Homo sapiens: one gene and its partner. The protein of the gene in region 1 interacts with the protein of each later gene in a pairwise test. Each region holds a gene or a part of one and is shown on either strand. Other genes may lie near its edges.

Region 1 (3,747 bases):
CAAATGAACAAATGTAGTTTGACAATTGATATCAGACAGTATAAGGGACAAGCTATTCTGCTATGTTTTTAAAACTTTATCATTATCGCTGGGCACGGTGGCTCACGCCTGTAATCCCAGCACTTTGGGAGGCCGAGGCGGGCGGATCACGAGGTCAGGTGATCGAGACCATCCTGGCTAACACGGTGAAACCCCGTCTCTACTAAAAAATACAAAAAAATTAGCCAGGTGTGGTGGCGGGCGCCTGTAGTCCCAGCTACTCGGGAGGCTGAGGCAGGGGAATGGCGTGAACCTGGGAGGCAGAGCTTGCAGTGAACCGAGATCAAGTCATTGCACTCCAGCCTGGGAGACAGAGCGAGAGAGCGAGACTCTGTCTCAAAAAAAAAAAAAACAAAAAACTTTATCATTATCAAGTAAGACCAGAAAACAACATTCTTAGACCACAGTGGCTTATCTCCCTTTACAAATGCCTCAACTATCAGTCAATATAAAAAATACCCACAAAATTGTTATATTGTCCATGATGTTACTCGATATCACTATTTAGAGGTCTCACCCATAAAATTCTTAGGATTTTTTGCCTGGAAGTTTCTAAATAACTTTATGAAAATAAAAACCACATAATCGATTGCATATGCCTTTATCCCTCTGGCTGTCAGGAAGCCAAGGGATACAGTTAAAAAAATGTAACACTAGGCTGGGGCGGTGGCTCACGCCTGTAATCCCAGCACTTTAGGAGGCCGAGGTGGGCAGATCACCTGAGGTCAGGAGATCGAGACCATCCTGGCTAACATGGTGAAACCCCGTCTCTACTAAAAATACAAAAAAAAAAAAAAAATTAGCCATTAGCTGGGCGTGGTGGTGGGCGCTTATAGTCCCAGCTACTCGGGAGGCTGAGGCAGGAGAATGGCGTGAACCCGAGAGACAGAGCTTGCAGTGAACCGAGATCGCGCCACTGCACTCCAGCCTGGGAGACAGAGCTAGACTCCATCTCAAAAAAATAAATAAATAAATACATAAATAAAATAAAAAGTAACACTAAACTTTAGAAATTGTTTTATGCCAAATAGTTGCCACAATTACTGTAGTCCATGGTTCTATAAGGCTTCTGATACCTACCTTAACAAACGGTTTGTACTAGTGACTATCAAACATACTTCAAATCCTTTCTTGAAAGCAGGTGAGATACTATTTAAAAATTAAATTATCACTGCTAATTAAAACATCAAAGGGCATCTGATAAATATATAGCTTTAATAGAGTTGATTATTTTATTTTTTAAATTGTATTTATTTTTTTTGAGACGGAATCTCACTCTGTCACCCAGGCTGGAGTGCAATGGTGTGATCTCTGCTCACTGCAACCTCTGCCTCCCAGGTTCAAGTGATTCTCCTGCCTCAGCCACCCAAGTAGCTGGGACTACAGGTGTGTGCCACCACGCCTGGCTAATTTTTGTATTTTTAGTAGAGATGGGGTTTTGCCACATTGGCCAGGCTGGTCTCAAACTCCTGACCTCAGGTGATCCGCCTGCCTTGGCCTCCCAAAGTGCTGGAATTACAGGTGTGAGCCACCGCACCCAGCCAAGGTGATTATTTTTAAAATATACATATTCTAACATCACATAAGGCTTGAATAATAATTTTTTATAAATCACTTATCAAACAAAAAATAAAAATAAATAAAAATCACTTATCAGCTTACCACCCAATACAGTCGCTAGTACCATTTTTGTTATTATATCACTTAATAATCAATCAACAGCTCAGCTATTTCTCAAAGCCAAACTTTTTTTTTTTTTTTTTTTTGAGATGGAGTCTCGCTCTGTTGCCCAGGCTGGAGTGCAGTGGCAGGATCTCAGCTCACTGCAAGCTCCGCCTCCTGGGTTCACACCATTCTCCTGTCTCAGCCTCCCGAGTAGCTGGGACTACAGGCGTCTGCCACCATGCCCAGCTAATTTTTTGTATTTTTAGTAGAGACAGGGTTTCACCGTGTTAGCCAGGATGGTCTCGATCTCCTGACCTCGTGATCCACCCGCCTCGGCCTCCCAAAGTGCTGGGATTACAGACGTGAGCCACCGCACCCGGCTCAAACTTTTTAAAATTAAAAGCTACCTTCAGCATAGAAGGTGTTTGTTATAAGGCATGTATCTAATAACTTGAAAAGGTTATTTAACTGTTTAAAAAATGTGGGGCTTTTGAAAAGATCTTACAAAAATGAAATAAAAGTAGAGAAACTTAGAAAGCAAATACATAAATAAAATAAGGTGGTGCAAGTAAACTAGGTGATACTGCCTTGTTTTAATGTGTATAATTCTAATTTCACTTATTAAAACCAATCTTTCCCTATAGTAGTACTATAACATACAGACTTTGTTTGACAAAGTCTTAAAAAGTCCGTGAATTGCACTCTGATTATACAGCTTGGTTCAACAAGTCCTCTAAAAATCTTAACCTTATTCTTATGGCTTCTTCTAAGTTATGGCAGTGATCGAGAAGAATATTTGTGCCTAAAACCTGTTTGCTCCTAACATAATCTATTAAGTGGAAAAACCTAATTCAGCAATTTAGAGAGTAATACTCCTTGTTCTCTCCCTCTAGTTAATGGAGTGTTCTCCAAATGGCTTTGGGCCAATCATTCTCTCAGCTGTTTTGGTGAGGCCAGAAGACTGGCTATGTCTATCCAATGAGTGAAAAAACTAGCTTCTCTTTTCCCTTTCCTTTAAGGTCAGGCATAAGTGTATCCAATTGAAATGGAATGTCAGGAAACACCAAAAGTGAATCTAAAAGGTGGATAGTAGTCTTAAGAAAATCTGAAGAATTTAGATTATGGAGATATTGGCATGTGCAAAATACATGGGATTAACTAACCACAACCAGAAGATACAGTTCTCAGGAAAACCCTAGGCAACCAAAGTTCAAGTCTTCCTCCTCTCAGCTAGTACAGAATAACCAAATAAACCAAAGTTATTTACAAATATTGAAGAGAATAGAGTCAAAATTTTAGAATATCTAAGTTTTTAAAGCCAGGTGAGAGATCTTGTCAGCAAAAATTTAAAGGAACAATAATACCCAGAGCTGGGCAAGTTACTCTGCATCTTACTGTAGTTCTCTTCTCTGTAAAATAGGGATAGTAAGAGTTATTCCTCATAGCAGTTTTGAGGGGATTAAACACAATGTATACTAAATGCTTAGCATGGAAACTAGCACATCTTAGGCATTCACTATACATTAAATATTATAGCCGGGCACGGTAGCTCACACCTATAATCCCAGCACTTTGGGAGGCCAAGGTGTGGGGGATCACCTGAGGTCAGGAGTTTGAAACCAGCCTGGCCAACATGGTGAAACCCTGTCTCTACTAAAAATACAAAATATTAGCTGGGCGTGGTGGCACGTGCCTGTAATCCCAGCTACTCGGGAGGCTGAGGCAGGAGAACTGCTTGAACCTGGGTGGCGGAGGTTGCAGTGAGCTGAGATCGCACCACTGCACTCCTGGGCAGTAAGAGTGAAACTCCGTCTCAAAAAATAAATACATAAATAAATATTATTAATATTGTATTACTGCTGATGAGACAGATTTGTTCAACTTTTCTGGGGAATAATTTGGCAACAGGTATCAAAAGCCTGAAAAATGGTATCTACCCTTTAACTTAATAATTACCTTCCTAGGGATTTATTCTAAGGAAATAATCAGAAATGGTCAAAGATTTATGTTCATGGATTTTCATATAAAAGCATTAGATCAAAA
Region 2 (3,747 bases), on another chromosome or scaffold:
TCCCACTGCCCTTGAAGACCAGCCCTCTGAGACAGTAACAGTCACTGCCCTTCCCTGCCAGGCCACACCACTTACATCCCCTCCACCCACTCCACTGCCCAAGCAGGCAGGCTGACAGCACCCCTCCAGGAGGGTCTGAGCCGCAGCTGGTGTGGGGTGGAAGGTGGGGAGGGTGGGTGCACCTGGTTCTGCAATCTGAGGGGTTGGCAGCCCTCAGTATTTTTTAAATCAGTTACTGTTCTATTAAAATAATCACGATTTGGAGCTGCTTTTGACAGACTGGAAGACCCAGCCATGCTGGGCTCCTCACACAGGGCAACAGTTAGCTAGGGCTGAGAAGCAGCTGCGTCCTTCAAGACTAAGTGGTCTTCAGTTCTCCTCAGACCCCACCCTTCCCTACTGTATCCCCCCACCCCAACCTGACCTGCCTGGCTCCTGAGGGCAGGATCAGCCCTGAACCAGATGTTGAACTAAATGTGCTTAAGGCTCATGCCTCAGGAGAAGCTGGGACCACAGGGAACAGAGGGCTGGACAGGCAGGGGGAGTCAGAGGCAAGCCTGTGCGGTAGATAAGAGGCTTGAACCCACCTCAGTGGGCACCCTCTCCCTTCCACAGCCAACGGGGCAAGGGGCAGCCCTTGGAACCTCCAACCCAGTGGCAAAGATGTAGAGTTGGGATGGAGTGTGGAGTAGCTCCTCCCAGGGCCAAGTGTAGGGGGTGGAGGGCAGAGACTGTCAGTAGTGGCCTGACCACACACTGGGAAGAGAAGGAGCTAAGGAGGTCGCTGGGACAGAAGGAGTGGGTGCTAAGGAGCCCGAAACTGGGTCCTGGGACAGCCAGAGAGAGAGAGGGCTTGCATGCTTTCTGTGCCTCAGAGCTGTCCTGGCTGGCGGCTGGGTGGGGCAGGGAGAGGAGAGAGGAGGGCAGGGGAGGGACTGCCCAGCTGGAAGAGGCCTTGTCTAATTGTGCCTGATTAGTAGAGAGGAAGAGAACAGGGCGAGTGATTAATAGTCATGGCAGTCACCAGCATGTGGAGAAGGAGGGTCGGGAGGGGGAGGGAGACCGGAGAGCCCATAGGGGATGGAGATAGTGAGGCGCCCACAGGGCCCCAGGCTCCTGGCCCCCCGGGGCTGCCTGGACCCTTGAGGACCCTGAGGAGTGGGGCTGGCTCCTACCCATGCCTCCTCAGGGTTTCTTCGCCTCCCCCAGCCTCAATTTTCCAGACAGTAGCGTGGAAAAGACCAAGGTCATGTCCTGCACCTGGGAAGAAAGCACCTTTGCTCACGTGGTGTCTCCAGACACCCCACTGCCCCCAGCCCCCAGCCCCCAGACACAGGCCCTATCCTCAGCTCCACCTGAGATCACAGCCCACAGAGTAGATGGCCCGACTTCCAGTCACAGCCCGCAGCTACCCTTTATATCCTGTGGTCCCAGTTGTAATCCCAGCCCTGCCCTACCCAGACAATCTCATTCCTAGGGCCATCCAGAGCTGCGCTGTCCAACACGGCAGCCTATAGCCACGTATGGCTATTTGAATGTAAAATTCATTTTCTCTGTCGCACTAATCGCATTTCAAGTGCTCAACAGCCACATGTGGCTAGTGACTACCAAGTTGGACAAGCACAGGTGCAGAGCGTGTCCATCACCACAGAATGTTCTATTGGCAGCACTGATCTAGACAGTGTGTGCGCACTCCTGCACCTATGCACACGTGCATGCATATTTTGGAGGGCTGGATAGAATGGAAATGCTAGTACAGGGCAGAGGAGGGTGTGGGCCAGAGGGTCAAAAGCGGGGCGATGACTAGGTAATGGAGAGTAATGAAGATGCCAGCACATGGGTCGGAAACCAGTAGGTGGTGCTGACAACAGTCAGGTTAAAGATAGCCAGCAGTTGGGGTGGCGGCATTTATAACAGCTGACGCTTACACAGAGTATACGATGTGTGTGCCAGGTAGTGTGCTAAGCTCTTTAGGAGCATCTCTTTAATCCTCACAACAACCCCCAATTTTTAGGTTCTAATATCCTATTTAAAGAATACACCCAGCACTTTGGGAGGCCAAGGCGGGCGGATCACGAGGTCAGGAGATCGAGACCATCCTGGCTAACACAGTGAAACCCCATCTGTACTAAAATTACAAAAAATTAGCCGGGCGAGGTGGCGGGCACCTGTAGTCCCAGCTACTCAGGAGGCTGAGGCAAGAGAATGGCATGAACCCCGGGGGGCGGAGCCTGTAGTGAGCCGAGATCGCGCCGCTGCACTCCAGCCTGGGCAACAACGAGACTCTGTCTCAAAAAAACAAACAAAAAAAAGAATACACAAACCGATGCTCACAGAAGCTTTTTGGCTTCCCCACGGCCACACAGCTTAATGCGTAGAGCCGAGGTTCGAATCCTGGTGGTCCCCAGGTGAGAGGAGATGCTGAATTTTAGAGCCACCCTTGCATTTTACAGCTCAAGAAATGAAGCCTAGGGAGAAAGAGTGATTTCTGCCTTTTAGTAAGAGGGCAGGCTGAGAGCAGGCCGCAGTGGGGAAGGTAGAACTGGGGCTTGGAGGAAGGGGGTGTGGGTAGCAGATGGCGGCAGGAATCAGGGAGGAAGGGAGAGCTGTCTACAAGGCTGGGGGTGGGGGACATACAGGTGGTAGAATGGGCGGGAGTGAGATGGTATGAGACTGAGTGAAGAGGGGAGGGAGAAGAGAGGAGCAGAGGTAAACTAGCTGGAGCTAGCCACCATGCAGAGCAAACATACGGGGCCCACCTCCCAGGGCCCTCTCCTCTTTCCTCTCTTCCCTCTTCTCCAAACTGCCCAGCCTGCCTCATCCCCTAGGCCCTCCCAGCTCTCCTCCACCCAGAATGGCCTCTCCTTCTCTGAACTCGACCTCTTACTACCCATGCACCTCGTCTGGCAATTGATCCTGGCACCTTATGACACCACTTGCATGGCTGATTAACTCTTGCATGGTTGCTTAAACTTCTGAGTGTCCCTGTCCCCACTCTACGAGACTATAGGCTGCTTGAGGACAGGGACTGGGGACAGGGCTTCCCATCTTTGCTGTCCTCCACAGCTCTGAGCAGGGAGCCCAACACATAGTAGGCACCCAGAACTCCATGTTGATTGATTGACTGACTGATTGGGAGTGCATGAAGGGATATTAGGGAGCGTGGGGGGAGAGCGATTGCAGTGGTAACAGAAGCAAGAGCAGCAGCAGAGGGGACTGGGGGAGGGCACATTACCCGGAGTAAAAATAGGCTGGAAAATGTGACATTTATTAACTTGGATTCCAGAGGAAAGGTCACAGCAGAGTGGGGAGTGGGAAGGAGGAAACAGGGAAAGCAACAGAAAACACATAACAGCCCCTTGGTGAAGCCTGTCCCTGTCTCTGACCATCTCACCACCCATACCCCGGCAGGCTCCCCACCAACCAGCTCACATACCCATCTCCCCACCATAGACCCCAAATCCCCATCATTGACTCCAGGTCCTCACCACAGAGCTGATTATGGACCTCACGTCCTTTTTGGAGACCCCATATCTTCATCTCCATGCCCATTCTCCAGTCTTTCCCCTGTAATACACCCCATCTTCCCCACTACCATGGATCATGGGCCCCCAGCCCAATCTGTAATTCCAGACCCTGGTGAATCTGCAGCAGACTCAGCCCTTGAATGCCAGACCCAAGACAGAGTTACACTCAGCAGACGGGGGATGCAGTATGTGCAGAAGAGTAGGAGGCTGGGCTGGAGAC

Evidence for each region.
Region 2: the proteins of PRPS1 (region 1) and ASIC4 interact in binary tests that used the Homo sapiens proteins (3 or more experiments, as listed by UniProt).

What each region holds. Positions count from the first base shown.
Region 1 is NC_000023.11:107,631,480-107,635,226, reverse strand, and holds part of PRPS1 (ribose-phosphate pyrophosphokinase 1), read right to left. Parts: intron 1-3,747. UniProt on the Homo sapiens protein: Catalyzes the synthesis of phosphoribosylpyrophosphate (PRPP) that is essential for nucleotide synthesis.
Region 2 is NC_000002.12:219,517,469-219,521,215, reverse strand, and holds part of ASIC4 (acid-sensing ion channel 4), read right to left. Parts: intron 1-3,747. UniProt on the Homo sapiens protein: Does not exhibit measurable stand-alone pH-gated sodium channel activity but may form pH-gated heterotrimeric sodium channels. Its activity could also depend on alternative gating mechanisms.